Regions from separate parts of the Homo sapiens genome. Here all the other regions are linked to region 4. The links come from fine-mapping of genetic effects on gene expression. A gene starts in region 4. Each other region holds a variant in brackets. All regions are shown on one strand. Distances are from middle to middle.

What was found. PIP is the estimated chance that this variant, and not a neighbour inherited with it, causes the effect.
Region 1: its variant is fine-mapped to the expression of GCM1 in whole blood (TOPMed, PIP above 0.99).
Region 2: its variant is fine-mapped to the expression of GCM1 in whole blood (TOPMed, PIP 0.91).
Region 3: its variant is fine-mapped to the expression of GCM1 in whole blood (TOPMed, PIP above 0.99).

What each region holds. Positions count from the first base shown.
Region 1 is chr6:53,231,939-53,240,130 of GRCh38, reverse strand. It overlaps the pseudogene HMGB1P20. Among named protein-coding and RNA genes, the nearest start is that of MIR5685, 41 kb to the left of the region's middle. The variant G/A (reference allele first, on the strand shown) is at 4,465.
Region 2 is chr6:53,215,271-53,223,462 of GRCh38, reverse strand. It overlaps the pseudogene RNU1-136P. Among named protein-coding and RNA genes, the nearest start is that of MIR5685, 58 kb to the left of the region's middle. The variant G/C (reference allele first, on the strand shown) is at 4,932.
Region 3 is chr6:53,187,903-53,196,094 of GRCh38, reverse strand. No RefSeq gene overlaps it. Among named protein-coding and RNA genes, the nearest start is that of GCM1, 43 kb to the right of the region's middle. The variant G/A (reference allele first, on the strand shown) is at 3,803.
Region 4 is chr6:53,145,567-53,153,758 of GRCh38, reverse strand. It overlaps GCM1 (glial cells missing transcription factor 1), which reads left to right and starts at 4,918. Exons shown (of 6, transcript NM_003643.4): 1 at 4,918-5,005; 2 at 7,991-8,192. The coding sequence starts at 8,127. It also overlaps the pseudogene LOC124901513.

The DNA.
Region 1 (8,192 bases), 86 kb before region 4:
GATTGGCTTAGGCCAATAACCAATGGGAGCATAGTGATCAGTTTTCCTTTGGGGATGAAGCTTAAGAGTTCTTCACTTGATCACATAGGGCTGGGGACACCCTTGAACAAAATCCAGGTTCTGGCAACAAGGAAAACCTATGCACAAGGGTTGGGGTGACGAATGACTTAGGTACATTATCTTCTATATAAGCCATCAAGGGGCCAGCTGCACTAGCGAGAAGGGCAATAGAGGCCCAGAGAAGGTGTCGGGAAAGCAGAAGAGTCGGGGCAGGTAGGTCAGGGCCAGTTGGAGGGCCTTGGGCTTTACACACAGAATGAATAACCTGAATGAGTCATTACCTAAACCACTGTTCCTTCACTCCATTCTCCCTCCTGAGAATGGGTTATGCACCTGCTCACACATGTGACTGTTCTTTCACATCACCAGTTTGGGTTGGGATGACATGACCCAGCTGCCTCCAGAAGCCTCCCAGCCAATGGACCCAGAGCAGGCTGTGGGCAAATCAGTCAGGTGGTGGCTGCTGATTGGAATTCATCCACATTCTCAGGGTGGAGAGCAGCAGATGTGTGCAGCCTCCTCCCCTATGGAGGGGATGCTATTTGTTTAAATGGTGGTTGGTGATGCCAGAAACACTTGGCCTCATTTATCTGGATATAGAATAATCCAGCACAAATAGATCAGTAGTAGTAGTACAGCAGCGATAGTAGCCCAACCCTTTTACTTTGTAGACATAGAAAACCAAGTTCATGTTGAAGTGACTTGGCCAGGATCACAAAGACCAAACTAGAACTAAGACTGAGTCTTAAGACTCTTGCTTTGATTCTGTTTCTCATTATACCTTGTAGGAAAAGTTTCTATGCCAAATTCTAGGCCAGATCTATAACGTCATTTTTCTGAGAAACAAAACTGCTTTAGGTAAGTTGTTCTAATAGTTCCTCAAGTTCATCTGAAATCTACTAATTATGTTTGATATGGAGACTTATTTTTAATGTTGTGTAATTAGACTTGCAAGTTCCACCCTTAAAACTTTTTATCTGTTGTTTACCAACACAGGCCAAGATTCCAGCTAATAATATTTTCAACCACTTTTGTCATTCTCCAATAAATTACATAGAAAATTGTCAAGAGTAATTCCTGGCCGGTCATGGTGGCTCACACCTGTAATCTCAGCACTTTGGGAGGCCTAGGCAGGCAGATCACGAGGTCAGGAGTTTGGGACCAGCCTGACCAACATGGTGATACCCCATCTCTACTAAAAATACAAACAAACAAACAAAAAATTAGCCGGGCGTGGTGGTGCGCACCTGTAATCCCAGCTACTCAGGAGGCTGAGGCAGGAGAATCACTTGAACCCAGGAGGCAGAGGTTGCAGTGAGCCAAGATTGCGCCACTGCACTCCAGCCTGCACAACAAAGTGAGACTCTGTCTCAAAAAAAAGAAAAAGTAATTCCTTTCCAGTGACAGCAGAAATCAGAGACTTCAAGTCTCCAGTTCAAGTTCACTGGACTCATTACTTCAAAGGGAGTATAATAAGCTCCCTGAGATTATCTTTCTGAAGTAACTCTTTTCTGTCTATCAGCTGACTTGCAACTGATTGTGTACTTGACACAGATCCACATGACTCGGTGCAATGGGAATAGTCCAGCAGTTTTGAATTCTCAGATGATTTTCGCTCTTTGTTTCTTGTCTTGTTTGAAGAGATCAAAAGGGAGCTCTATCGCTGTGTGATAAGTATGTTTCTATCACTGTTTTCCATAGCTTTCCCTTCCAAGATCCATTATAACTTTGGAAATGTGGTGAAATGTGTCTTACCAGACTAAATCTGGTAAGGTTTAGTCTAGGGGTGTGTGTGTGTGTGTGTGTATGTGTGTGTGTGCATGCACGCATGCCCGCATGTATGCTAGGAGTAGGCAGAGTGGGGAAAGGAGGTAATGTGGGGGTTGCAATTGTAGCACTTGGATGAAAACATGGATGTTTAGCACACATCTACAATAAACATGATCTTCATTATTTTTAGTTAGCCACATTATTATTATACCCAGAAAAATAATTTTAAAAGCTTTCAAAGGTTAAAGAAATGATTCACAGCAGATAATCAGAATCTAAGTTGGCAGTCTGTTCAGTACCCATCACTACTTCTCCCACTAATTTTCAGATTGCCAACTTGCTATCAGTAAAACATTCTTAGTCAAGCAAACGATTTAACAATTATTTGTCCTCATCCACTTTTGCACACAGGTGAATAAGCTAATGTGGGCTGGAAACAAGATTAGAAACAAACTCTGATTAAACCATTCATTCATCAAATGTACATTAAACACTTACTATCCGACAGGTTTTGTATTACGAGAAAAGAAACAGTAAACAGGAGGCTGGGTGCAGTCACTCGCACCTGTAATCCCAGTACTTTGGGAGGCCAAGGTGGGTGGATCACCTGAGGTCAGGAGTTCGAGACCAGCCTGACCAACATGGTGAAACCCTATCTCTACTAAAAATACAAAAATTAGCCGGGTGTGGTGGCACATGCCTGTAATCCCAGCTACTTGGGAGGCTGAGGCAGGAGAATCGCTTGAACCAGGGAGATGGAGGCTGCAGTGAGCTGAGATCGCACCACTGCACTCCAGCCCGGGTGACAGAGCGAGACTCTCTCAACAACAACAACAACAAGAAACAGTAAACAGGAAAAGAAAAAAGGTTTCCATTCAGTAGAACCCTGTGCTGGAGTCCTGGACAGCATGCATGGCCACACACTGGCGAGGCACCAGTCTTGGTGTGAGCAAGGAGACAGTGCAGGAAAGCCTTCAGGAGGAGGTGATGTCGGAACTAAATGTGGAAGGACAGGTGAGAGTAGACAGACATGGAGGTAAAGGGAACAGGAGAAAGAAAGGCTTGGAGGTGTGAGGCGGGAGCGTGCATGTCAAGGACCTCACAGTTAACATGGCGGGGGGCGGGGGTGGGGTCAGCGGGGGGAATGAGAAGGATGGAGGCAGAGGGTCGGGGGCTCATGCGGGGCTGGGTTGGCTTTGCCAGGAGATCAGACTAAATCCTGATAGCCGTGAGAGCTATTGTAGAAATAATTTCAAGCTGATCAGATTTATTTGGGTTTACTGTAGGAGGGAGGAGGCTGTTTTTGTGTATTTGTTTAATCTTTTTTGGACAAGCCTTAAGATTAGTAAAGGACTATACGAGGTCCTTAATATTGAAAGAGCCAATATATACCGTCATACATTCTTCCAACATTCTCGTTATTCACGTAGTGCATTCAGATAAATATATTCTCAACAAATATTTCCTTCATTTGTAACATCTAGGCAGAGGTGGGCAAGAGCAGATAAAAGAGATGGCAAACTTTGATGACCTTCTTTATATGCCTCAAGGCCTCACCACTGATATGTCATTGAGTATTTCACACTGGCTTCCTCTGACTCTTTTCATCAAGGTCTTAACAACCATTGTGTCAACATGTGACCTTATAAACTGTACACAAGGACCCTTTTTGGGACAACATGATCATGGGAGAGAAATCTCTCCCCTTGCCTCCCTCTTCCTACCCATCTGTGCTTCTGCCTGAAGTCATCGGTATTTCAGAGATTAAAACTGTTCTTTAGGTCTTAGCCACCAGTTTTTATTTGCATGAGCCATACCAAAGAAACTGAGAAATTGCTTTTGTGGCTTGTCTACTTGGAACTTTGAAAAGAATGAACAGTAACATTCTCAGTCAGATTCAGATTTCATGTAAAACCTGCTTTAGAGAACTGAAGGATAAGACATGCTTATTTACAACTTTTAAATTATTATCCTCTCGATAGAGACAGCACCAGGGAAAGTGAAAGCCAGACAGGCACTGGGCGACTCTGTGCCTCACTGAGGAAAAATTACTCAACATGAGCAAAGGAGATCCTAAGAAGCCAAGAGGCGAAATGTCATCGTACGCATTTTTGTGCAAACTTGTCAGGAGGAGCATAAGAAGAAGCATCCAGATGCTTAGGTCAACTTCTCAGAGTTTTCTAAGAAGTGCTTAGAGAGGTGGAAGACCATGTCTGCTAAAGAGAAAGGAAAATTTGAAGATACGGCAAAGGCGGACAAGGCCCATAATGAAAGAGAAATGAAAATCTATATCCCTTCTAAAGGGGAGACAAGAAAGAAGTTCAAGGATCCCAAGGCACCCAAGAGGCCTCCTTCAGCCTTTTTTTCTATTCTGTTCTGAGTATTGCCCAAAACATCCTGGCCTGTCCATTGGTGATGCTGCGAAGAGACTGGGAGAGATGTGGAATGACACTGCTGCAGGTGACAAGCAGCCTTAGGAGAAGAAGGCTGCAAAGCCGAAGGAAAAATGCGAAAAGGGTCTTGCTGCATATCGAGCTAAAGGAAAGCCTGATGCAGCAAAAAAGGGAGTTGTCAAGGCTGAAAAAAAGCAAGAAAAAGAGGAGGAAGCTGAGGAAAATGAAGAGGGTGAGGAGG[G/A]GGAAGATAAAGAGATGAAGATGAAGAAGACAATGATAATGAATAAGTTGGTTCTAGTTTTTTTTTTTCTTGTCTGTAAAGCATTTAGCCCGCCTGTACACAACTCACTCCTTTTAAAGAAAAAAAATGAAATGTAAGGCTGTGTAAAATTTGTTTTTAAACCATACATTCTATTTTTTTGTATAATTAACACATTACCGAAATGTTTCTTTAGATAGCGATGTCTTGGTGGTATTTTTTTCTTTTTATATTTTGAGACTGAGTCTCCTCTGTCACCCAGGCTGGAGTGCAATGGCACCATCTTGGCTCACTCCATCCTCTGCCTCCTGGGTTCAAGCGATTTCCCTGCTTCGGCCTCCTGAGTAGCTGGGATTACAGGCACACGCCACCATGCCCTGCTAGTATTTTCAATAACCACTAACCTTGCCTGGTAAAGTATGGGGGTTGTAAATTGGCATGAAAATTTCAAACAGGTTCTTTTTGGTGCACAGCGCAAATTAGTTATACATGGTGATGGTAGTTTTTTTCATCTTCAGTTGTCTCTGATGCAGCTTATACCAAATAATTGTTGTTCCATTAACTGAATACCACTCTATAATTGAAAAAAAAAGTTGCAGCTGTTTTGTTGACATTTTGTTGACATTCTGAATGCTTCTAAGTAAATACAAATTTTTTTCCTTTTTTTTTTTTTTTGAGACTGAGGTTTGCTCTTGTTGCCCAGGCTGGAGTGCAATGGTGCGATCTCAGCTCACCACAACCTCTGCCTCCCAGTTTCAAGTGATTCTCCTGCCTCAGCCTCCTCAGTAGCTGGGATTACAGGCATGCACCACCACGCCCAGCTAATTTTGTATTTTTAGTAGAGACGGGGTTTCTCCATATTGGTCAGGCTGGTCTTGAACTCCTGAACTCAGGTGATCCATCTGTCTCAGCCTCCCAAAGTGCTGGGATTACAGGCGTGAGCCACCACACTTGGCCTAAATACAATTATTTTTAATAAAAAAGAAAGTATTATCCTGTCAAGAGCCACCCTAACCAGACTCAGTACAATGTTAATACACATCACCCAGAAGAGAGGGCACCTTCAGTTCGTGCCAGAGAATCTCTCTTGTCAGTAAAAAGTTAAAAAATAAAATAAAAAAAAAAATCACCCAATTTGGGCAGTGTTACCAAATGAGACCATTTTTCTTTGCAAGTTCACAAGTTCTTCTTTTTCCTTTTTTCCTTATTTATTTATTTCTCTTTTATTTTTGTTTGTTTGTTTGAGATGGAGTCTTGCTCTGTCACCCAGGCTGGAGTGCAGTGGTGTGATTTCAGCTCACTGCAACCTCTGTCTCCTGGGTTCAAGCGATTCTCCTGCCTTAGCCTCCCCAGTAGCTGGGATTACAGGCGCCCGCCACCACGCCCAGCTAATTTTGGTATTTTTAGTAGACACAGGGTTTCACCATGTTGGCCAGGCTGGTCTTAAACTCCTGACCTCAGGTGGTCTGCCCACCTTGGCCTCCCAAAGTGCTGGAATTACAGGTATGAACCACCATGTCTGGCCGATTTATTTCTTTTTTAAAGAGACAGGATCTTACTATGTTGCTCAGGTTGGTCTCAAACTCCTGGGCTCAAGCCATTCTCCAGCCTCAGCCACTGCCCCACCTCCCCCGCCCGCAATTGCTGGGATTACAGGTGTGCACCACTTAAGGTTTTGCATTTATTTTCATTTATTTTCAAACCTTTTTTTTTTTTTTGGCTCCTTTCCTGGTCATCATAGTCACATTATTAAAAAAAAGAAATAATACATTTAGATAAATCAACATTAGGAACTACTTATTACTCCCATAGAACATATTCTGTTGTTTTAGGTGCAAATATTTCCAAAATGTAACTATTTGTATGTATTTTTCCTCTTAATTTACCTGAAAGACGCTCACAAGTATTGAACTTGATGAAGGAAAATTATAATTTTCTCTTTGTGATTTTTTTAAAGAGTAGTCAGGGGTAATTTATTATAACAAACCACGAAAGAAAGTTACATTTTAAAAGTATTTTGTTGATTTATATGTCAGCAATGACTTCATCTGCCTAGTCAATGAAAGACACAAGAGTTTTAAATAAACTCCCCACATGCTGAGCTGTGTGCTTCCCTTATCCTATCACCCCAGCCTCTCCAGTTTAATGACATAAGGTGAGTAATGCTACAATCTGTTGAAGACTCAACAAAGTCACGCTTTGTAGACACCACAAGAGTTAAACTGAACTTTAATAATAACTTCAGGCTGGGGTGCCGGAGGTGGGAGAGCACCAGGAAAAACAGCTAGTGCATGTGGGGCTTAATACCTAGGCGATGGGTTGATAGGTGCAGCAAACCACCATAGCATATGTGTACCTATGTAACAAACCTGCACATCCTGCACATGTACCCTGGAACTTAAGATAAAGAAAAAAATAGGCCGGGTGCAAGTGGCTCACGCTTGTAATCCCAGCACCTTGGGAGGCCGAGGTGGGCAGATCACGAGGTCAGGAGTTCGATATCAGCCTGGCCAATATGACGAAATCCCATCTCTACTAAAAATACAAAAATTAGCTAGGCATGGTGGCGTGCGCCTGTAGTCCTAGCTACTTGGGAGGCTGAGGCAGAAAAATCGTTTGAACCCCGGAGGCGGAGCTTGCAGCCAAGATCACGCCACTGCACTCCAGCCTGGGCGAAAGAGAGAGACTCCGTCTCAAAATAAATAAATAAATACTAATAATTGCTTAAGGTTTATCTTACAATGCTGCCACTTCCCCCAACAAGTCTGGAGATTGAATGGACATGAGTTTAATAGGAGAGGGGTGGAGGGTAAGGGCTGCAATTGGGGAAATGGGTAGAGGAAGAGGAGGCAGATTGAAAATAGTTTTTTAAAATCCTGGTCACTGAGTGGAAAGCGTGCTCACATTCCTAGGAGCAGAGGGGGAATATGGGTTAAACTTAAGGGACACACTAGGAGTTAATCATTCAGGGTACAGGGTGAACGCAAGTAAGAATTCTAAAAATGACGACTTCTCCTTCAAAACTGAAGCAGTCTGCAAGAAGCAGAATTGGAGAGCTTATTAGCTTGACTCCTTTGCCCTCTGCAGCTGATGCTCCCAGTTTAAATCCTGGCACAACCCTAAAATAAGAGTTAGCTCTGCAAAGGTAAAAAGAATTGAGGACACTGAAGAATATATAGTGGCACAAAGAATATTTAGTGGCACAAAACTAGCTCACAATTCCACATTGTGTTAGGGCAGCTCTGGCCTCTGCATTCTTGTGTCTGTCCACAAAGGTAACTGAAAAGGAAGCAGCCAGGTAAGTCATTGTTGCGAGCCGTTCTCCCGTTCCACCTCTTCTCATTTTGTGGTGTCAGTTGCTTCGGAAAGAACAAGGGGAAACGAAGGGTGGCCAAAGGAAGGCATCCCATTGTGTGTACATGTCAGTTTCACATTCTGTGCCCTTTATGCCAAAGAGGCCTTTGCTAGATACCATTTCCTCCTAGTTTGCCACCAAGATGGACAACAGACCTTTTCAACAAAACCTGCAAACTGTTTTAATTAATATTGCTAACATCAGGACAGATGTTACAAGATAAATCTCTTCCTCCTTTATTCTCCTCCTTCCCTAGCCATTCCACCCTGAAACATTTTGGGGCCTGTACTAGATACTAGAGACACAAAGGAGACTAGAACATTCTCTGTCGTTGAATTATTCTCAGTCAAATGAA
Region 2 (8,192 bases), 70 kb before region 4:
CTAATGCTTCTAGCTCACAAATCAAGATTTTTGTTCCCAGAAATTTTTGTGTGGGGATCGGGGGTATTCCATGAAAGGGTCCATATATGTGAAGTGAACCCCAATGTTGAAGGAGCCAAGAAACCAAAGGATGAGGCAGACAAATTCAGTTTCTCAGCATTGGGTGATTTATGAAGGGAACTTACAGAGAGAAGTGTGGTCTTGGGCAGCCAAGAAACAGGTAGAGCTCTGCCCCACAGGGCCTCAGACCCAGGGCTTATATCATGGGAAAAAAGCATAAGTACCCTGGAAAGAACATGTAGGTGACTTTGGGGGTCACAGCATATGATTTCTGCAATGAAGGTTGTTTTGGAAGAAATGTACAATGAATAGGTGTTCCTACATAAGGAGTAATACATCAACTACATATTTTGGAGGCATTCCTGGACTCAGGCTTAGTCAGGCAGATTAGCAGTTAAAATAAAGTCAGTCTTGTCCCCACATGGGGGCTGCTAGAGTTCTTGTAAATGCTCTTATCATTTTTTGGTTCAGGTTGTCATTTGTTTTCTCCAACAGTTCCACTTTCGTGGGGACTGCCGACTTTCTGCTTGTTTGCCGTTTCTCTGGCTATTGGGTCCCTTAGGTATTCTTTGCTATTTTCCCTCAGTGGCTCACTCAGGCCTGGGGAGAACTTACAGTGGTAGCATCTTAGTCCATTTGGGCTACTGTAACAAAAATCCTGGCAGGACATGGTGACTCACACCTGTAATCCCAGCACTTTGGGAGGCCAAGGCGAGATGATGGCTTGAGCCCAGGAGCTGGAGACCAGCCTGGACAACATGGCAAAAACTCCATCTCTACAAAAAATACAAAAATTAGCCAAACATGGTGAAGCATGCCTATAGACCCAGCTAGTCAGGAAGCTGAGGTGGGAGGATCACTTGAGCCTAGGAGGTCGGGGCTGCAGTGAGAGGTGATTGTAGCGATTGTACCATTGCACTCCAGCCTAGGCGACAGAGCAAGACTCTGTCTCAAAAAAAAAAAAAAAAAAATCTCCTAAATTAGATGGCTTATAACAGTTTATTTCTTACAGTTCTAGAGGCTGGGAATTCCAAGATCAAGATGTCAACAGATTCAGTGTTTGGTGAGGGCTCACTCTCTGCTTAATAGACGGCATTTTCTATCTGTGTCTTCACATGGCAGAAGGGGTGAATGAGCTCCCTTTGGTGTCTTTTATAAGGGCACTAATTCCATTCATGAGGGCTCCATCACCTCCCAAGGTCCCACTTCTTAAAACAATTGCACTGGGGATTAGGTTTCAACATATGAATTTGTCAGGGAGGGATACAAACGTTCAGACCATAGCAGGCAGCAGTACCATGAGTGGTGGAAGGAACACTACTATCTCCCCACATGGTTCAGCTGTGCAACCACTGCCCAGCTGACAGAGCCCACCTGAACACAAGGAGGAAGCCTCTCTCTCCCCAGTCTCCTCAGCTGACTGGCTGTAGGCCTTGCAGGTAGAAAGAGCTTAGCTCCCTCACTCCTTGGCATGGGAGAGCAACCTCTAAGGAATTATTGAGTGGACAAGCACAGCTCCTCCCCCAGGGATCAACAGGCCTTCCCACCTCAAGCATCTAGAGTTTGGTCTGATTCTCACCCCAGGGCTTCTCCGTGGCTGATCTTCAGTCCTCAGCAGACTCAAGTAAGAAAAGTAACTGTGCCTGCTTTCTCCTGTGGAGGAGGGTCCCAGGACCCACCATTCTCTGGGCTCAGGAAAAGCGCAGTGTTTGGATTGGAGATGTGGACAAAGGCAACCAGTATGAGTTAACGCTGCCATGTGCCTAGCGGCTCACAACTTCATCTATTGCCATTACCAAAACTATTATTAAAACAGTTGCCTGGGGCCGGGTGCCGTGGCTCACACCTGTAATCCCAGCACTTTGGGAGGCCAAGGCAGGCGGATCACCTGAGGTCAGGAGTTCAAGACGAGGCTGGTCAACATGGCCAAATACCGTCTCTACTAAAAACACAAAAATTAGCTGGGCATGGGGTTGGGTACCTGTAATCCCAGCTACCAGGGAGGCAGAGGCAGGAGAATCACTTGAACCCTGGAGGCAGAGGTTGCGGTGAGCTGAGATCACACCACTGCACTCCAGCCTGGGCAACAGGGCAACATTTCGTCTCAAACAAACAAACAAAACAGTTGCCTAAAAAATTTACTGAACATTTAAATAGATAATAACTTTAACTTAAACTTTTCAAAATACACATAAGCCCACAATCCTAACGAAAATATTTTCATTTTTCAATGTCCCTTTCTGATCTTTCTCGATTTGCGGGAGATTTTCACATTCTGCAATCGGAGTGCATGTCCAGGTGGTCCTGCCTGGCATCCGCTTCTCTGTGCCGTAGCAGCATGATAACCATGCTAATGGCTGCATCAACAAGGTTTGGAAGCATTCTATGTGTCTGACAATAGAGGAATACCTAAATAAGCAGTCATACATCCATTGTAGGTGATTATTTTCCAGCCTTTATTTTAACAATTTTGCAAATTTTTTTTAATCAGCAACAATTATCCCATCCCCCACTCCATCCCACCTAGTGTTCTTGTTGACTTACCTCTTTAAAGTAAGTGGGTGAGCATTCATGAGCAACTTCCTTTTTCATTAGCCTCTTCTATATTAGACCTCAGAACTATCTTGAGAGCCATTTGACAGTCTCAACTCTGGCCAGGCCATGCCCTCATGGTGACAATCCTGGAGGAAGGATGCTTTAATTTAGCAGAATGAATTCCCTCACTGTGTTCCATGGCCTGGTTCCTCAACTGTGGCTCATCTGCAGCCCTGGATGATATAAGCCTGGTATATTTTTATGCCTTGTGGAATTTCTCCCTCTACAGCTCATTGGTCTTCTTTTTCCAGCTGCAGAAAGGCTGGGCACAATGGCTCCCACCTGTAATCTCAGCACTTTGGGAGACCAAAGTGGGAGGATTGCTTGAGCCCAAAAGTTCAAGACTAGACTGGGCAATGAAGTGAAAACTCATCTCTACAAAAAAATCAAAAGCTAGCCAGGCATGGTGGCGTATATCTGTGTTCCCAGCTACACAGGAGGCTGAGGCAGGTGAAGCACTTGAGTGCAGGAGGTTCAGGCTATAGGGAGCCATGTTTGCACCACTGTACTCCAGTCTGAGCAACAGTGAGACCCTGTTTCAAAGAAAAACAAAAACAAAAACAAAAAAAACATTGTTTGTGTCTGGCCACAGTGGCTCACGCCTGTAATCCCAGCACTTTGGGAGGCTGAGGTGGGCGGATTACTTGAGGTCAGGAGTTCAAGACCAGCCTGGCCAACATGGTGAAACCCCATCTCTACTAAAAATACAAAAAAAATAAATTAGCCAGGTGTGGTGCTCCACACCTATAATCCCAGCTACTCAGGTGGCTCAGGCATGAGAATTGCTTGAAGCCAGGAGGCAGAGGTTGCATTGAGCTGAGATCATGCCACTGCACTCCAACCTGGGCAACAGAGTGGACTCTGTCTTAAAAAAAACAAAAACAAAAAACAAAAAAACATTGTGTGGTAGTGAGATGAGTTGCTTGCCAGCAATGTGGGTCTATATACACACCTCTGAGCAGGCTGGGCTGCCTTTTCCACAACAGCCCTCTATCCCCACTCCACCCCACATTGCCCACCCACTAAAATTCACAGCCACATCTGAGACTATCTTTGGTTTCCAGATCTAAGCCATTATCTTCACATTTTCAGGAAGAATAGATTCTTGAGGGTAGCAGAGCTCTCTTGGGCATTTCTGGTCAAAAACATATAGTTTTATCTTCTTTTCTCTATAGGAGAATTTCACCCAATATAATTAAGATTTCTCCCTTGTCAACAGCTGCAGGGTCCAGCATGCCTGTCACTGTCCAAGCCTTCCCAGAATCTCTGGTCAAAGGTTTTAGGGCAGTGCAGTCTTCTCCTAGTACCGCTTCTTCAAGCACTCTCAGAACTTGGTCTTGTCTTGTCTTTTCTTTTTTTTTTTCTTTTCTTCTTTTTTTTTTCCGGCGGAAAGCGTGGACACAGTCCCCCATTAACACAAATTATGCAGTCGACTTTCCCACATTTGGGGAAATCGCAGGGGTCAGCACATCCGGAGGGCAATGGATGAGACTCACCCTGGGAAAACCATCTTTGTGTTCATGGTATCTCCCCTGCCAGGTAATTATAGAACTTGGTCTTTTCTTCTCTGATCCTGGTGCATCTTTGCAGGAAGCAAAGAAGCTGGGTGCAATTTTCCTTCTCAGCAGCTCTAGTGTCCTAGTCCAAGTGCTGTCTGTCACTATTATGAATCAAGTTACAGGCAGTCTCAGAATCAGGTAACATTGTAATCTGGCTGTATTTTAAAATATGGTTTGAGATGTGTCTAACTCCTGTCAATGCTTGATAAAAGTGAATTCTTCATTATGAATCTTGAATTTCAGTCTAGGCATGAAACTGGACTCCATCTCAAAAGAGTTGACTGTAGTTGATTTATTCACATCCTCAGTCCACTCTTACGAGGCTTTCCATGGCATCCCTCTACTAAACAGCTCCTACTGAGGTCATCAGTGACCTACCTATATCTTGCCAAAGCCAATGGTCCATTCTCTGTCCTTACCTTACCTCTCTGTGGGATTTGGCAAGTTGACCACTCCATCCTTCTGGAAGCCCTTTCTTCTCTAGGCTTCAGGGAACCCACCCTCCTGGAGTCCTCTCTTCCTGCTTTCATTCTTGCCATCCCAGCAGCCCCTTTTCAGATGGCAGTCTGAGTGATATTTTAAAAACATTTGCTAGGCCAGGCACAGTGGCTCACACCTATAATCCCAGCACTTTGGGAGGGCAAGGTGGGAGGATTGCTTGAGCCCAGGAGGTCGAGACTGCAGTGAGCCATGATCGCGCCACTGCACTCCAGCCTG[G/C]GTGACGGAGCAAGACCCTGTCTCAAAAGAAACAAACAAAAATTTTACTTAATCACATTGCTATTCCTCCAAAAGCTTCCAATTATGTGTTGGGTAATAACCCAGCCCCTAGCATGATTTATGGTTTGACCCTGCCTTCTTTGCTCAGTCCTCACCCACACTCTTCTGCTCATCCACCAGGCTCCAGCCACACTGGCCTCCTTATATCTGTCAAATTCTCCAGGAGCTTTCAAATTGTTGGGCCTTGGCTGGGTGCAGTGGCTCACGCCTGTAATCCCAGCACTTTGGGAGGCCAAGGCGGGTGGATCACAAGGTCAGGAGATCAAGACCATCCTGGCTAACACGGTGAAACCCTGTCTCTACTAAAAATACAAAAAATTAGCCGGGCATGGTGGCGGGTGCCTGTGGTCCCAGCTATTCGGGAGGCTGAGGCAGGAGAATGCCGTGAACCCGGGAGGCGGAACTTGCAGTGAGCAGAGATCGTGCCACTGCACTCCGGCCTGGGGGACAGAGCGAGACTCCGTCTCAAAAAAAAAAAAAAATTGTTGGGCCTTCTTCTTAGAATGGTCTTCCTGCGAGTCATCACGTGGCTGCCTCCTCTTCACTTGGGTCGCAGCCAAACATCAACTCCTCAAGAGTTTTTCCCTGTCATACCTCTTCCTTCAAGTCACTCCTTTTTCTCTTCACAGCTCGTATTATCTGAAATTTTATTCATTTATTTTCTGGAGTGTGAGTTCATGAAGGTCAGGGACTTTATCTTGTCATATTATACCTAGTACTGAAAACCGCACAGAGCAGGCCCTCAATAAAGACTCATAGGCCAGGTGCAGTGGCTCATGCCTTAATCCCAGCACTTGGGAGGCTGAGGTGGGCAGATCACTTGCAGCCAGGAGTTCGGGACCAGCCTGCCCAACATAGCGAAACTCCTATCTCTACCAAAAATTACAAAAATAACCGGATGTGGTGGTGCACACCTGTAGGCCCAGCTACTCGGGAGGCTGAGGTGTGAAAATCACTTGAACCTGGGAGTTGGAGGTTGCAGTGAGCCAAGACCACACCACTGCTGTCCACCCTGGGTGACAGAGCGAGACTCTGTCTCAGAATAAATACATACATACATATATACATACCATAGACCAGCTCTTAATTATTTTACTGTCCAGTGTTCGGGAGCCCATTCTGCTCATTATATAGACACCTCAACTAGACTGCAAAAAAAAATATAGCAAATCATTTGGTCTGTAGTTGTATGTTTAACAGGTATTAGAATGCCTCAAATTTTTTAGGTTTCTACATTAGAAATACTTGCCCATAAGCAAGCTGAAAGAAAAACGTGAATATAATTGTTGGAAGTTTCTTTTTTACATAAATGCTTCTAATTTGTGGTCAATAAGAAGGTAGGTTAAAGATTCAAGAGAAGTACAAGACCTCCCCTAACTAACCTCTGTCAGTATCACTCACTTCAGCTCCCCTCCCATTGCAGGATACCTATCATGGGTCAGGCACTGGGCTAGATGCTGGGAAATGAGTAAGACACAGGCTCTGACCTTGACTTTACACTCTGACTAGGGACACAAGCACATAAATAGGTAATGTCAGTGTAATGTGGACTGTGCTTCCAGAGGGCCACCCATGAGACACAGGGTTGGCCATTCGGTCTGTCTGGAACATGCAGGGGATATTTTCTCAAGGAGACCACCTCCATGTTTGGCCCCTACTAAGATGTATCACATTTCCTCATGGTGTTCTTGTGTTTTATAGAGTATTTATAAACCACCTGTCTGCTTTCTGTTCTTTTGAAACAAGAGGAATTTCTTTAGTTATATTTCCAAAGATTATATGATACATATGATATGATATATATGATATATCAAGTGTCTTAGTCCGCGTGGACTGCTGTAACAGAGTGCCATAGATTGAGTGACTTCTAAACAACAGAAATTTATTTCTGGAGTATGGAAAGTCTAAGATCAAGGCGTTGGCAGATTCGGTGTCTGGTGAGGCCCACTTCCTGGTTTCTAGATAAACATCTTCTTGCTGTGTCCTCACATGGCAGAAGGGGCAGGGATCTCTCTTGGGTATCTTTAATAAGAACAAGGATCTCATTCATGAGGACTCTGCTCATGACTTCATAACCTCCCAAAGACCCCACCTCCTAGTACCATCACATTGAGGATTAGAATTCAACATATGAACGTTGGTGGGACACAAATATTCAGTCTATATCATCAACATTGTTTTTTTCTTCTTGATAGCATTGCATTTTTATCTGATATAATTAGATTTTCTGCCCAGAGGCCTTTGTGAAACTTTCTGACAGTTAATTGCTAGAATGTTTTTTTAACCTTCTTACCATTGAACTTTCTGGGATGAGTCTTATATTACCCAGATCAGATATGTTCCAGGTCAGCGTATTTGGAGATGAAAGTGACCCTTTTAAAATTTCACTGAACCAGTAATGAACATATCAGTCAAAATAAGATTTTAATTATTAAACTAGACTAAGATCTTTTTATTAGAACCAGCCAAACTGTCAGTCATCAGTGTTGTTCTGTTCCATATTTAATATGTAATATTTAACCATATTTAAATACATTTAAGTTACCTATTTAAAAAAACCTTTAGACTTTCTGTCTTTTCAATTGATGCCCAGTCTTCTTTCATTTCGTGGTTATTTTCTCTGTTTTAACCATTTAATTCTAGACAATATGGCTTGCTGGTTTCTATCTTTTGCTCCACAGGCCCTCGTTTCTTTAAAGTTAATGAAATGCTCCTGTCAAATAGAAAAGTAACTTGTTAGTTCTTCTATAACCAAAGGACACTATGCTTGCCTGACACAGCCCTACAAGGGACTTGACTGTAACCATTTTCTTTGTATTGAAACTACTTTTCAGCTTCTGTGATAGTATTAATTCCTAGTTTTCCACCAAACTCACTAAGTGCTTTTCAAATGACAGAGCTGTGATGCTCTTGGAGACAGGACTGAGCTAAATGTGCAAAGAAAATAAGGTAGTAGTGGTGGGGAAATTCTGAGGAGCTGCAGCTTGCAGGAAGCTGGACAAAATGCCAAGAGAAATGAAAACTAGGTTGGTTTGGATCTAAGTAATCTCCTGAAAGAGAAAATTGTTATCAGGCATAATTTTAGGGAAACATATATAAACATATTCTTGGCTGCAAGACCCTACATGAATAGCTTCTCCACATACACACACATCCAGGCTCACACAGAAGCTCAGACCTCATGTCTCATGACTCTTGCGT
Region 3 (8,192 bases), 42 kb before region 4:
CGAAAATTAGCTGGGTGTGGTGGCGTGCAACTGTAATCCCAGCTACTGGGGAGGCTGAGGCAGGGGAATCGCTGGAACCCGGGAGGTGGAGGCTCCAGTGGGCCAAGATCGCACCACTGCACTCCAGCCTGGGCGACACAGTGAGACTCTGTCTCAAAAATTAAGAAAAAAAGGAAAATTTATATGACATCGTAAAATGAAAAGTATTTGCCACAAATAGAAAGTAACTTTAAAATAAATACCACAGAAATAAAACAGTATTCTTAAATCTAGTTTAATACCTTTGCCTGCTGAAGGGTGGGATCTTTTGTTAAAAGGATAATTAACAAGTGTTAGGGATCTTCTCCTAAATTTAATCAGAATGACTGGAGGAACACTGAGTCATTGTTACTTAGTACAATTATTGTCATACCTCTTTTAGGGTCTGTTTGCACTTTAATGAAGCAATTGGGTGCTTGGCTGAAGAGAAAAAACTCTCTCAAAGTTGTTTTTCAGGTGCTAGGGCTGGTGGGGGCAGGAAAGGTAAGGCGCGCATGCCTTAGGGTTAGGTCTGGGTGATCAGGTGGTGTTTTCCTGAAGATAATACATCCTACGGTATCCTAAAGTGTCTGGCCCCACAGGTAGAGATTCAGGTATGTGGGTGACAGACTACTCATTCCCAGGCCTGAACACAGCCCCATAGCTACTCATACAGATATTCAAGCAGGAAAAAGTATGCTTTCTCTTTCTTTTTTTCTTAATAGAGACAGGGTCTCCCTATGTTGCCCAGGCTGGTCTTGAACTCCTGGACTCGAGGGATCCTCCTGCTTCAGCCTTCCAAAGTGATAGGATTACAGGCGTGAGCTACCACGACTGGCCACCTCTCCCCTCCCCTCCCCTCCCCTCCCCTCCCCTCCCCTCCCCTCCTCTCCCCTCCCCTCCCCTCCTGTCCTCTCCGCTCCTCTCCTTTCCTTCCTACCTCCTGCATTTGTTTTCCTTTTCTCTTCTTTCTTTTCTTTTATTTTCCTTTCTTTCTTATATTCCTTCCTTGCTTCCTCCTTCTTTTCTTTCTTTTTTTTTTCCTTTCTTTCTTTTCTTTCTGGATCTCACATCTGTTTCCCAGGCTGGAGTGCCACAGCATGATCTCGGCTCACTTCAGCCTTGACCTCCTGGGCTCAGTGATTCTCCCACCTCTGTATCCCAAGTAGCTGGGACTACAGGCGTGCGCCACTGTGCCTAGCTAATTTCTTATATATTTAGTAGAGACAGGGTTTGCCATGTTGCTCAAGCTGTATTTTCTCTCTTTCTACTGGAAATATTTACTAGGGAAAGGCAGGAAAAAAGACTACAACAAAACTGACAGCAAATGAACTGCTGCAGAAGTGAACTGTCCAAACTGGCCTTGCAAGTTTTCCCCTTCTAATTTAGTCTTTGTTCCTTGCTACAGTTACTGTCACTAACTATAACCAAAGATCTATAGAAGATACATCTATTAATGTTAATTTAGTCTTTGCTCCATGCTACAGTTACTGTCACTAACTACAACCAAAGATCTAGAGAAGATACATCTATTAATATTAGTCTTTGCTCAATGTTACAGTTACTGTCACTAACTACAACCAAAGATCTAGAGAAGATACATCTATTAATGTTAATTTAGTCTTTGCTCAATGCTACAGTTCCTGTCCCTAACTACAACCAAAGATCTAGAGAAGATACATCTATTAATGTTAGTCTTTGCTCAATGTTACAGTTACTGTCACTAACTACAACCAAAGATCTAGAAAGGATACATCTATTAATGCTACAATGTAGTCAAAAGAGCTCTAGATTTGGAAGCAGGAAATCTGAAATCTGTTCCTCCTTTAGCATTTCTTAGCTGTTATGATTACCTTGAGCAATGTATCCCTTGCCTGATCTTTCTCATTTTCCATTAAATCTTCCATTTTCTACCCCTTAGGTGAACAGATTTGCCTTTGACGGCCCAGTGAGCTACTCTTTAAGATGAGAACAACAATATTTTATCCTGTCATGGAAGGCAGGGGACTGGACTAGTTAATTTCTTGTACCCATCAGTTCTGGGATCATAAAATCCTATGAATTAGAGAAAACCAACTGTATGCTGGTGCCAGACTCTTGAACATGAAGCAAGTATGCAACAGACCAATGTTTCAGCATGTGCCTGCCCACATGACAAACTGTTGTTTATAGAGCACCAACTATGCACACAATAATGATGATGACAAGTCATTTTTGAGTGTTTACTCCTCACAACAGCCCCATGAACTAGTTTGTATCATTATCCCCACTTAAAAAATATAGAAACGGAGGCACAGGGAAGCCAAGTCATTTGTCCACAGCACAAAATCAATAAGCAGCAGAGATGACTTTGAACAGAGACCATCTGTTGAAACTGACTGCAAAGAGGCACAGGGAATTTTGAGGGGTGATGGAAATGTTTTTTTATTATAAAATTAAATGTCAAAGGTGGAGAACTGTTTCCCAGAGAGCAGTTTCGAAACTATTTGTAGCTAAGTTTAATTTGTTATATTTTATTTTTATTATAAATTTTTTTTTTTTTGAGAGATGAGGCCTCACTGTGTTGCCCAGGCTGGAGTGCAGTGGCATGATCGTAGCTTACTGCGGCCTCAAACTCCTGGGCTCAAGCCATCCTCCCACCTCAGGCTCCCGAGTAGCTGGGACTACAGGTGTGTGCCACCATACCCAGTTGGAAATGGTCTATGTCTTGATGCAAATGCTCTATATCTGGGTGGTTATAAAACTATAGAACTGTACACCTAAAGAGGGTGAATTTCACTCTATGTAAGTTATATTTTAATAAACCTGACTTTTAGGACAAACGAAAAAACAGAACGAAGAGCAAACAGAATTTAGAACAAACAAACAAAAAAACCCAGAATGAAGCCAAGAGTTAAGGAAGAGAGCAAGGGAGGGAGGTTGGGAGGAAGGAAGGAGGGGAGGACTCTGCAGAGCAGGCTGGAAGCTAGGAAGAATGCCCTGTATGTGCTGACCAGGCAAGCACAGAAGTCGCCTGGAGAGCCACGCCTCTGCTATCTGTTTCCATTGCCTCAGGGAGAAAAACAAAAAGATAATAAATTCAGCTTCTCTTTTTCTTTTGTTGATGGCCTTCTCCTTTCACCTTTGTTTTGTGATTTCGCTTCAGAGGGCAGTCTCTCTTTTTCAACTCAGTTCCAGCTGCTGAAAGTGAAGGCCTAGACATTTGATCTCCTCTTGATTTGACCAGAACACCCTGTTCGAGAGACAGGACAAGCAGTAACACAGGGGTTTTGGCAAAGAATCGGACTGTATTGATCTAAGTAAATGAATGAATACATTAGTGTTTTTGCTGCCAGCAATCTGGTAAGAACTCTTAAACACATCCAGCAAGGGTTAAGTAGGAAACAATGGTGTTCCCTTGCCAACATCCACTGCAGTGTGTGGAGAATTATTTTCAAATTTCTATTTTGGATGCAGGCAGGAAAGGGGACAAGGTTTGAAAAATTATGCTCACTACTTGGGTGATGGGATCATCCGTATCCCAATCCTCAGCATCACACAATATACCCATGTAACAAATCTACATGTATCCCCTGTATCTAAAATAAGAGTTAAAAAAAAATTTAAATTCCGTTTTGGCAAATGCATTTCCTTTCCTATCTCACTAGACTGGAGCCTCTGACCCTCTCAGGACACCCCTCAGGCAGGGGAGTTTCCTCATCACAACCTGTTTGTTTCATCCTGAATTACAGCCCTAAATCCTTTGCTGAGTTGCCATTTTCATTAAATCAAAGTATACTTGTTA[G/A]AGACTTAAAGTTGATTAAATAGCAAAATAAACCACTTATCTTCCTATACATCTTCAACTCCCAGAGCTAGTTGTGACAAGGGTTTTGGTGGCCACCAAGAAACCACACTATAAGAATTTTAGAAGAGAGTTACTTTCATTTCATATTTAAATTATTATTATTATTATTTTTTTTTTTTTTTTTTTTTTTTTTTTTTTTTTTGAGACGGAGTTTCACTCTTGTTGCCCAGGCTGGAGTGCAGTGGCGCGATCTCGGCTCATTGCAACCTCCACCTCCCAGGTTCAACTGATTCTCCTACCTCAGCCTCCCAAGTAGCAGGGGTTATAGGCATGCGCCACCATGCCTGGCTAATTTTTTTTGTATTTTTAGTAGAGACAGGGTTTCACCATGTTAGTCAGGCTGGTCTCAAACTCCTAACATCAGGTGATCCACCCACCTCGACCTCCCAGAATCCTGGGATTACAGGCGTGAGCCACCGCGCCCAGCCAAATTGTTTATTTTTAAAAATGTTTGAATGTGTAATTCATTCCTATGTCTAAAAAAACTAAGAGAAAATTACAGAGTGAAGTTTCTTTCTACACTTGTCCCCCATCTACCCAGCATTCCCTTCCTAAAACAAGTTTCTTTTTTATTCTTCCAAGGATTTTAATGCATATGAATATCAATATTTATTTACCGAAGTATATACACCTAGAGGCCAGGTGCAGTGGCTCACGCCTGTAATCCCAGCACTTTGGGAGGCTGAGGGCAGGAGTTTGAGACCAGCCTGGCCAACATGGCAAAACCCCGTCTCTACTAAAAATACAAAAAAAAATTAGCTGGGCATGGTGGTGGCAGGCGCCTGTAATCCCAGCTACTCAGGAGGCTGAGGTGGGAGAATTGCTTGAACCCAGGAGGCAGAGGTTGCAGTGAGCTGAGATGGTGCCATTGCACTCCAGCCTGGCCGACGAGCGAAACTCCTTCTCAAAAAAAAAAAAGAAAAAGAAAGCTTTACCAGATTCTTTTCTCTCTCTTTCTCCCATTTTTTTAACTTTTATTTTAGGTTTATGGTACATGTGCAGGTTTGTTAAATAGGTAAATTGTGTGTCACAGGGGTTTGGTGTACAGAAAATTTTGTCCCCAGGCAATGAACATAGTACCCAATAGGTATTTTTTCTGATCCCCTCTCTGCTCCCACCTTCCACCCTCAAGTATGCCCTAGCGCACCTGTTGTTCACCTCCCAGTGTCCATGTATTCTTGTGCGTAGCTCCCACTTATAACTGAGAACATGCAGTATTTAATATTCTGTTCCTGCATTAGTTTGCTTAGGATAATGGCCCTGGCTCTATCCATGTTGCTGTGAAAGACATGATCTTGTTCTTTTTTATGGCTGCATAGTATTCCATGGTATATATGTAATCACATTTTCTATTTTTTTTTTTTTTTTTTTTGAGACAGAGTCTCGCTCTATTGCCCAGGCTGGAGTATAGTGGCACCATCTCGGCTCACTGCAACTTCTGCCTTCTGGGTTCAGATGATTCTTGTGCCTCAGCCTCCCTAGTAGCTGCAACTACAGGCATGTTCCACCATGCCTGGCTAATTTTTTTTTTTTGAGACATATTTCACTCTTGTCGCCCAGGCCTGGGCAACAGAGCGAGACTCTGTCTCCAAAAAAAAAAAAAAAAGATAGAAAATGTGGTTACATATATACCATGGAATACTATGCAGCCAATAAAAAAGAACAAGATTGGCTGGGCACGGTGACTCACGCCTGTAATCCCAGCACTTTGGGAGGCTGAGGCAGGTGGATCACGAGGTCAGGAGATAGAGACCATCCTGGCTAACACAGTGAAACCCCGTCTCTACTAAAAATACAAAAAAAAAAATTAGCCGGGCGTGGTGATGGGCGCCTGCAGTCCCAGCTACTCTGGAGGCTAAGGCAGGAGAATGGCGTGAACCTGGGAGGCAGAGCTTGCAGTGAGCCGAGATCGTGCCACTGCACTCCAGCCTGGGCAATGGAGCCAGACTCCATCTCAAAAAAAAAAAAAGAACAAGATCGTTATTTTAAGCAAACTAATACAGGAACAGAAAATTAAATACTGCATGTTCTCAGTTATAAGTCAGAGCTACACATCAAGAACACATGGACACTAGGTGGTGAACAACAGGCGCTGGGGTGTACTTGAGGGTGGAAGGTGGGTGTCCATCTACTAGAAATATATAAAATATAATAATATACAATGTTATCAGAAGGTGATTTCAAGGGATTGGGAAGGATCCTGTGTGGCTTTGGCCAATATTGGCCATTTTGACCATTATTGTAGTTTACGTTAAAAATAACTAACATTTTCACAGAGCCTTAGAGTCTTAGAGTTATTGCATACTTATGTTATTCCACCTACATTAGTGGTGGAATGAGGCAGGAATGTATTATCATTTTTATTTTACAGATGAAATGCAAGGAGATTAAGTGACTTGTCCAAGAGCTAAGTAGTAAATGGGGTTGCCAGGAGTTGAATTCCAGTTGCCTGACTTGATGTCTAGCATAAAGGCAGCCAAGCAACTATATGATTTAGCTATGTAATGTAACCCTTTAGAGCCCACACCTTGCAAGCTCTGTGCCATAGCTTTTAGATTAGTTGCTTAAAACTGAAGCCAAGCTTTTCAGTGGCAATGATTTAAGTTGCTAAATATAATCATGACTCTCAAGAAAGTTATATTTTAACTTTGTATGATCTAGTTTTGTGTTTTTTTGTTGTTTTTTTTTTTGAGACGGAGTCTCCCTCTGTCGCCCAGGCTGGAGTGCAGTGGCATGATCTCGGCTCACCGCAACTTCCGCCTCCTGGGTTCAAGCAATTCTCCTGCCTCAGCCTCTTGAGTAGCTGGGATTACCGGCATGTGCCACCACGCCCGGCTAATTTTTTTTGTATTTTTAGTAGAGACGAGGTTTCACCATATTGGTCAGGCTGGTCTCAAACTCCTGACCTTGTGATCCACCCAACTCGGCCCCCCAAAGTGCTGGGATTACAGGCATGAGCCACCACGCCTGGCCCTAGTTGTCTAAAACTTTGAACAGGTCTTTAAAAAATATATTCTGTTGATCTACTGTGGATCAATATAAAGACATTTGCTAAGGATCAGATCCCATGTAATATCTTACACATTGGGTATAGATTAGGCTGGAACCTAGTTCTTAGATTCCTACTCAGTTATTTCACTAAATGAATACTTACTTAATTATACTTAGTGAATATTTTACTTAATTATGCTTACTAGGCAGAATAGTAGGAGATGTAGCTCTAACCTCTAGTGACATATTTTAATAAACAGATCACAGCCTGGGTAACAAAAGCAAGACCCTGTCTCTACAAAAAATATAAAAAATTAGCCGGGTGTGGTGGTGCATGCCTGTGGTCCTACTTGGGACCCTACGGTCCCAAGAGATCTGGAAGGGTCTCTTGAGCCCAGGAGTTTTAGGCTGCAGTGAGCTACTGCACTCCAGCCTGGGTCACAGGTGAGATTCTGTCTCTAAAACAAAAACAAAAACAAAACCAGATCAGACATACCAGTATTATGGTTCTTGGTGCTTTTGGTGGAGCTTCACCTTGGTGGGAGGAGTTCTAGAGACATCTCTTCTGCAACTGATTCCTGAAAAGGGATGACAGTAGCCCTCCCGCTCCCTTATCCACAGGGGATAAGTTCAGAGCCTGAAACTGCCCATAGCACTGAACCTGATCGCCATCAAGCGGAACACAGTTCTGTTTATGACCTCCACCCACACATTTCAATGTTTTTTTTTTCCTTAACTAAGCACTTATCACACACTGTTGTGAGCTTTGCAGTTTGAGATGCAACAACGAAACTAGCATGAATTTCTTTTTCTTTCTTCACGATCTCAGGGATACAAGATTCCTTCTTACTGCAGATCTTAGCAACCTCAAAATACGATGGTTTCCTCTTCTTTTAAGCTGAGAACTTTCACCTTTTCATTCAGAGGAAGCACTTCCGGCTTCTCTTTAGCTTTTTTTTTTTTTTTTTTTTTTTTTTTGAGACAGAGTCTTGTTCTGTCACCCAGGCTGGAGTGCAGTGGCGCAATCTCAGCTCACTGCAACCTCTGCCTCCCGGGTTCAAGTGATTCTCCAGCCTCAGCCTCCCGAGTAGCTGGGATTACAGGCGCCTGCCACCACGCCCGGCTGATTTTTGTATTTTGAGTAGAGAAGGGGTTTCACCATGTTATCCAGGCTGGTCTCCAACTCCTGACCTCGTGATCAGCCCGCCTCAGCCTCCCAAAATGCTGGGATTACAGGCGTGAGTCATGGCGCCCGGCCGGCTTATTTTTTTATTTTTTTTAGACGGAGTCTCGCTTTGTCGCCTAGGCTGGAGTGCAGTGGCGCGATCTTGGCTCACTG
Region 4 (8,192 bases):
TTAATAACAATGTATTGTATGTTGCAAAATAGCTAGAAGAGAGGACTTGAAATACTCCCAACATGTGAAACAGTAAATACTCAAGGTGAGGGACACCCCAAATTCTCTGACTTGATCATTACACATTCTATGCATGTAGCCAAAATATCATATGTACCCAGCAAATATGTACAACAACTAAAAATTTATATTAATTTCATGAAGTGGTTGTGAGAACTAAATGTTTGGAAAAATGCCGGATACATAATAAATGATAAATAAAAGTCCACAATAGAATGGCTGGGCACAGTGGCTCACGCTTGTAATCCCAGCACTTTGGGAGGCTGAGGTGGGTGGATCACCTGAGGTCAGGAGTTCGAGACCAGCCTGGACAACATGACGAATCCCCATCTCTACTAAATATACAAAAATTAGCTGGGCGTGGTGGCATGCGCCTGTAGCCCCAGCTACTCAGGAGGCTGAGGCACAAGAATCGCTTGAACCCGGGAGACGGAGGTTGCAGTGAGCCGAGATTGCGCCACTGCACTCCAGCCTGAGTGACAGAGCAAGACTCTGTCTTGAAAAAAAAAAAAAAAGTCCACAGTAGAAGAACTGGGCAAATGGCTGAAACTAGATAGGGTAGATACCAGAAGGATAGAACTGTAAGTGTAGAAGTTCATCCATTAGGTAGAACAAGGTATCTTTTAGGCTGTGAATTGGAAACCGCAGGCAATAGTCTAGGCAAACTTGTCAGCCCTGAGAGTCTGGCATGGTCACCCCAAACCAAAGGCAGCACAATACTGCTCCCTCCCTGGTTCCCGAACATGTAGAAATATGAAGGTGTGGGTTATGGTTGATATTGTGACTGGGATGTTGCTGGCATCTTGCGTCTGGGAATTCTGTGCATGGGACAGTCTGACCCAAATAATTATCCTGCTTAAAATGCCTAAAGCACCACTATTGATGAAAAAAAAACCAGAATGATCTCAATAGGCAGGCCTCAGAGTGTCAGGGAATGCAAAAGTAGAGATACTGAGAAATCCAATCATTAGTGGTTGAGGTCAGTTACCAAGTAATAGGGCCTCTAGCCACCTGGCTTAAGGCAGGATTCCTGTCTCTAGGGGAGGAGGCACAGGGTGGAAAGAGTGATGTAGAACTCAGATTTTATAGGAGTGGAGACAAAGACTCCAGATGCTGAACACATAGGGCTCTTCATGCAGTACCGTGGTCAACAGGCATGTCTCTGAGTTCTACCCCAGCTCTGCTACTTACATTTCTGTGTAAAGCTATTTGTCTGAGCCTTGATCTCCTTCTCCACAAAGGAGGCATAATAAAAATAGTATCTATCTGATAGGGATGCTGTATGGATCAAGAGTGATAATACAGACAGGTGATTAAGCATGGCGCCTGATTCATTGTAAATGTGCAGTCAAGGGAAGCTACTATGATTATTGTTATTAATAACAATGACAGAGATCCAATTAGGAGAATTTGGCCAGGTAAGGTGGCTCACGCCTATAATCTCAGCACTTTGGGAGGCTGAGGCAGTGGATCACTGGATCCCAGGAGTTCGAGCCCAGCCTGGCAACACAGTGAGACCCTGTCTCTACAAAAAGTTTTTAAAATTAGCTGAGTGTGGTAGCATGTGCCTGTGGTCCCAGCTACTTGGGAGGCTGAGGTGGGAGGATAGGTTGAGCCTGGGAAGAGGAGGCTACAGTGAGCTGAGATTGTGCCACTGCACTCCAGTCTGGGGGACAGAGCAAGACCCTGTGTCAAAAAACAAAACAAAACAAAAACAATTAGGAGAATTTGGGTAATAAGTTGGGACCTTGGCCTCAAGAAAGCAAAAATACCCTTACTAGTCTGGACATCATGTCACACCTCTATCAGAGTGTGAAGGCAGAGCTTCTCAGCGCCCTCCTGTGTCCGAGTAGGGTTGGTGCTTGGGACAAGGATGGCTGTGATGTTGCTGCTGGAAACTCAGCAAGTCTTTCTATGAGGAGAGGGAAAGTAGAAGATCCCAACTTGGCCGTGAAAGAACTAGCAGCCTCACTGGGGAGCCAGAACCAACACTCATCAACAATGAAAAGCAATAGCCTGATGTGGTGGCGGGCACCTGGAGTCCCAGCTGCTTGGGAGGCTCAGTGGGGAGAATGACTTGAACCTAGGAGTTTGAGTCTACCCTGGACCACACAGGGAAACCGTATCTCCAAAAAAAGCAAAACAAAACCAATCAACCAAACAAACAAAACAAAACAACTAAAGGCAATATCACGTAAAATAGGATTGCAAATAAAAATAATATCTTTTGTTCTATATGGGAACAAAAAGATATGGGAAAACAAAAGTTTGAAAGGACATGCCTGACATGTTAACAGTGGAAACCTATGGGAGATGAGAATATGACTTTTTTATAAATCATGAATTTATTTTGTAATTTAAAAACACTGTTAGATCCAAGTGATACAAGACAGCATATAATTCACAGTTAAGAGTTCAACATGGCCAGGCACCGTGGCTCATACCTGTAGTTCCGGCAATTTGGGAGGCCAAGGCAGGCGATTTCTTGAGCCCAGGAATTCAAGACCAGCCTAGACAACATGGTGAAGTCCCATCTTTACAAAAAATACAAAAATTAGCGGGACGTGGTGGTGAGCACCTGTAGCCCCAGCTACTTGGGATGCTGAGGCGGGAGGATCACTTGAGCCCAGGAAAGCGAGACCATAGTGAGCCATAATCACACCACTGTGCTCCAGCCTGGGTGACAGAGTAAGACCTTGTCTCAAAAAAGAAACAAAAGAGCATCACAGAAATGAGGAATCATGTGTTCTTGAATAGTGTGGGAAGCTCTCATAAGGAGGTGGCATTTTGGGGATCCTGAAGGGTAGACAGGGTTCAGATATATGGATGTGAAAAATACACTAGAGAATAGACCTAAGTAAGTGAATAAGCACAACAGGTGTGCCAGTGATTGACTTATTGCCTGTCGACACTAAATCCACTCTTTACTCCGCTTGTGATTCTGGACCTAGACCCTGTAGACATCCTCTTTCACCAGCTGGCATAATTTTAGGCTTTGTCCTGATACAATGTATCTGATGGATGGAGAAATGTCCTCCTGACCAACAAAGGGATTACAGAGAGGAGACCAAGACTGGCCAGATAAAGTACAATAAGATCAAGCAGGGTTGGTCAGGCGTGGTGGCTAACGCCTGTAATCCCAGCACTTTGGGAGGCCGAGGCGGGTGGATCACCTGAGTTCGGGAATTCAAGACTAGCCTGACCAACATGGAGAAACCCCATCTCTACTAAAAATACAAAATTAGCCGAGCGTGGTGGTGTGCGCCTGTAATCCCAGCTACTCAGGAGGCTGAGGCAGGAGAATCGCCTGAACTCGGGAGGCAGAGGTTGTGGTGAGCCGAGATAGTGCAATTACACTCCAGCCTGGGCAACAAGAGCAAAACTCCGTTTCAAAAAAAAAAAAAGATGAAGCAGGGTCTTAAACTTCAGGCAGGAAAGGAATTTGTTCATGAACTGAAAGACGAATGAGAAATCTATTAGGGGCCGCCGAATGCAACTATGAGGCTTTCCAAGCCTTTTGCCTTCTCGCCTTCTCATCTCTGCCTCCTAAGCCTCATCCTTGAAAGTCTGGACCTTCCTGACAGGTACTGATCCCTCGTCATGTTGTCCAGGATATTGTCACTCCCCGAAACACCCTCTTCCAGTCCTTCACGCCTTGATAAATATCTATTTGTCCTTCAAAAGGCTCATCGAGCATTATTTTGGTGGGTTTCCTTTGGTTCTCCTCCCTCCAGCTTAATAGCCTTCTCATTTATATTACTTTTATTCTATACATCAAATTAAATCGGCCTTATTTAGTAGCTTTAATCATCTTTTCTACTAGAATGAACTTCTTAATGGCTTTCATTCTCTCTTGTGTTGCCAAGGCCTGGCAGACTACCTAGAACAAAACATATGAACTGAACTGATTTAGGCTGTACTGCGGATGTCTCTAAAAGGAAGAATAGCACTGAGGGTATCTCTAGAAGAAATAATTGGTTTTTGTTTGTTCGTTTTTTTTTGTTGTTTTGTTTTGTTTTGTTTTTGTTTTTTTGAGATGGAGCCTCGCTCTGTCACCCAGGCTTGACTGCAGTGACGCAATCTCAGCTCACGCAACCTCCGCTTCCCGGGTTCAAGCAATTCTCTGCCTCAGTCTCCCAAATAGCTGGGATTACAGGCGCTCGCCACCACACCTGGCTAATTTTTGTATTTCTAGTAGAGACGGGGTTTCACCATCTTGGCCAGGCTGGTTTTGAACTCCCAACCTTGTGATCCGCCCACATCGGCCTCCCAAAGTGCTAGGATTACAGGTGTGAGCCACCACGCCCGGCCAAGAATTGTATATTTTTAGGGGATCAGAACACTTAGAATTAGTGGGACATTATTGCTAGGGTTAAGATAGCATTTCAGTATTTCTGGTATAGAGGATGTTGGCTATCCACTGTCTATTCCAGTAAATTTCCTCACCATAATATCTCTCTATCTCTGTCTGTCTGTCTTCTCTCTCTTGCACACATGAGAGAGAACTATTACCTGCCGGGTAAATAGTGGGAGAATTAGGACCTACTGTGAATCGTCTGCCTGGGGCCCAACCTGTAACATCACAAGAAGAAAAACATCTGTACTTCCTTATGAGGTTCTTTTCAATGTCCATTTTAGTTCAAATGTCCTCATAACATAAAGGGAGGGGGAAGTTCAGAGACACATCATAGAATATTCATCACATTGCTGGCATTCTGGGAAGAATCAGGCTGGTTAAGTGACTCCCAGGCTGCTCTTACCTATCCAGAGCCTAGAGCATCTAGATTTTGATTGGACCATTGCCAGAACTCATTAGCATAGTGTACCCTGACCTGGAATAGGGAACAGCGTCTGCTCAGAAAATGACCAGAGCCTGCTGGGACTTGAACCAGCAGTAAGATTTTCACGACACAGTGCTGTCTGCTTCTCCGTAAGAAGTTAGAAGGTAAGAAAGCCAGAAATCCCGTGGAGAGGCAAATGTAAGGGATGTGGCAACGACCACTCTATTCCTACAGGGTTTCATTTGTTCTAGTTCATTTTTCTGTAGAAATGATGAAAATTGAATATACTTTGCGCAAGTTGCTTTAAAAAAAGGAGTCTTGACAAGTGTAGTTTTTCAATCCTAGAAGAGGAAAACAGAGTTTACTTAAGGGCTGTAAAATGGTTTTTTCTTCTTTTCTATGTTTTGTTCTTAACTTTTAGGGAAATATTAAATTAATGCTCATTCGCTTAGCAAATGTTAATATCGAGAGAAAAATCTAAAATGTAACATAGTTGTTCTGTAATAAAATTTTCTTTATTATTCTTCCCTTAATTTAAAAACAAAATAATTATGTCTATATTGCCTAGGCTTTATAACAATGTTTTTGATTTTTGAAAATATGAATCTTATTTGCCAAGGTTTTTAAAAAGTAGATCTATTCCAATTAGTTATAACAAAATTTGCACCATCAGAGACAATATCGTTACTGTTCAGGGTAAGTACACGGAACTGCTGCTTGGTATCTGCATCTTCTATACCTGTTATTTAAGTCCTTTGAATTAGAGTCAATTTGCGGCATCATTTCTTCAGTAACACAATGTTTCTTTCCTAAACATAGAATTTTACTTAAAATCCATGAGGATTTAGTCTTGAAAATCAACATTCAGTTGGGGAACAGAAACTTCGTGCTCTGCAACCACTAGGTTGTAGCTCAGTATGGGTATGTGGAACAGACAGGAAGAGACTCTGATTAGCTTGTCATTTAATGGTCAAGAACTTTATTTATAAAGACTATACTTTCAGGGATCATTTCTATAGTTTGTTACTAGAGAAATTTCTCTGGACATCTAGAGCACACACAAAAAAGAAAAAAGGAACTTCATTCTTATGTTCAGGTCAACGGTCTTTTATATACATACACTTTCCCTTGGTAGAGTTCAGTGATTGACAAGTATTAGGATTATATAACACTAAATAACTAAAGAACAGGCCGGGCACAGTGGCTCATGCCTGTAATCCCAGCACTTTGGGAGACAGAGACGTATGGATCACCTGAGGAAAGGAGTTCAAGACCGGCCTGGTCAACATGGTGAAACCCCATCTCTACTGAAAATACAAAAATTAGCTGGGTGTGGTGGTGCGTGCCTGTAATCCCAGCTACTTGGGAGGCTGAGGTAAAAGAATCACTGGAGCCCCAGAGGTGGAGGCTATGGTGAGCTGAGATTGCGCCACTGCACTCCAGCCTGGGTGATAAGAGTAAGACTCCATTAAAAAAAAAAAAAAAAAAAAAACAATAAAAACTAAAGAAAAGAGTTCATGGGTCTCGCCAAAGCTTAGACTATTAATCTACCTTATAGTTTGAGTTCGCTATTAAATAGCTCTACATAACATCATTATGTCTCTTGTTTTTATAAGAGTACCAATAAATGAAATGTTATACATGTGAACATGTTTCACTTCATATCGTACTAACAAGTAGCTTTCATCTGCAAAATTATTCATTTTTTTCCTCAGGGTAGAACACTTCAAATTTTCTTTCTTTTTTTCTTGGTAAACCTCCTTTAACCAATTATAGTTAGAAATTAGAGCACTATTTCTCGTGAGGGAAGAAATGCCATTTGAACAAACTTTTATTTATTCATTCATTTATTTATTTATTCATTCATTCATTTATTTATTTTTTGAGACAAGGTCTCACTCTGTCACCCAGGCTGGCATGCAGTGACACAATCTTGGCTCACTGCAGCCTCAACCTCCTGGGCTCGGGTAATCCTCCACCTCAGCCTCCCAAAGTAGCTGGGACTACAGGTGTGCACCACCATGCCCAGCTAGTGATTTGTACTTCTTGTATAAACACGGTTTCTGCATGTTTCTCAGGCTGGTCTTGAACTCATAGACTTAAGTGATACATGTGTCTTGGCCTCCCAAAGTATTGGGATTACAGGCTGCTAGCACCTAATGGGTAGAGACCAGGGATGCTGCCAAACAGTCTACAACATGAAAAAAGCTCCCCACAACAAAGAATTATCTGGTCCAAAATGTCAATAGTGCCAAACTTAAGAAACCCTGTTTCAGATTAATCAGATATAAGCATATTAGTTGATAATATTTGAAGATATATCGTGCGCACAGGATTTATTGCAGAGACCAAACCTAATCCTTACAGTGATTTGGATTTTCAAATATATTTTTTTTCTGGCCGGGTGCGGTGGCTCACGCCTGTAATCCCAACACTTTGGGAGTCCGAGGCGGGTAGATCACTTGAGGTCAGGAGTTCGAGACCAGGCTGGCCAGCAGAGTGAAACCCCATCTCTACTAAAAATACAAAAATCAGCTGTGCGTGGTGGCACATGCCTGTAATCCCAGCTACTGGGGAGGCTGAGGCAGGAGAGTTGCTTGAACCCAAGAGGCAGAGGTTGCAGTAAGCCGAGATCACTCCATTGCACTCCAGCCTGGGTGAAGAAGTGAGACTCCATCTCAAAAAAAAAAAAAAAAAAAAATATATATATATATATATATATAAAACATATATGTATTTTCCTAGATAAATTCAGTGTGATGTTCCCCTCTTGCAGCTTCAACCACACATTAGCTAATTTATAAAGGCATTTCTATGGAAACAACTCCAAGCCAGTATCCTCCTGCCCTAGCAGGAAAAGTCCTAGCCATTGGTTACAGATGACAACTGTCTCTGCTAAGGCCTTCACAACCTGGATCTTGCAATGAGAAAGCAAGCCCAAACCCAAGGGTGAAAGCAGTGATCACACGCTTCTAATTCCCGATGGCCAAGTTTTAAGTAAAATCACTTATGGCTCCTATGTTTTGTTTTTTACTAGTATGTTGGTACTTGCAAAAATGTCAGTGAAACAGGTTTTTCTGGCAGAGGAGCATTGGGGTTTTTTTTTAAATCTCTTTAATGGCCAATACTAATATAACTTATTTTTTTAGCCCTAGAAAACAATCTCCTGGTCCAAGGTGCTTGAGTGGGCCGATCCAGCTATATCAAGAACCTTTGAGAACAAAATTCTCAAGCATTTCTGAGGGGAGTCGAATAGGTGAAAACCTTGGCTGGCCTGACCTTATCATGGAACCTGACGACTTTGATTCTGAAGACAAAGAGATATTAAGCTGGGATATTAATGATGTGAAA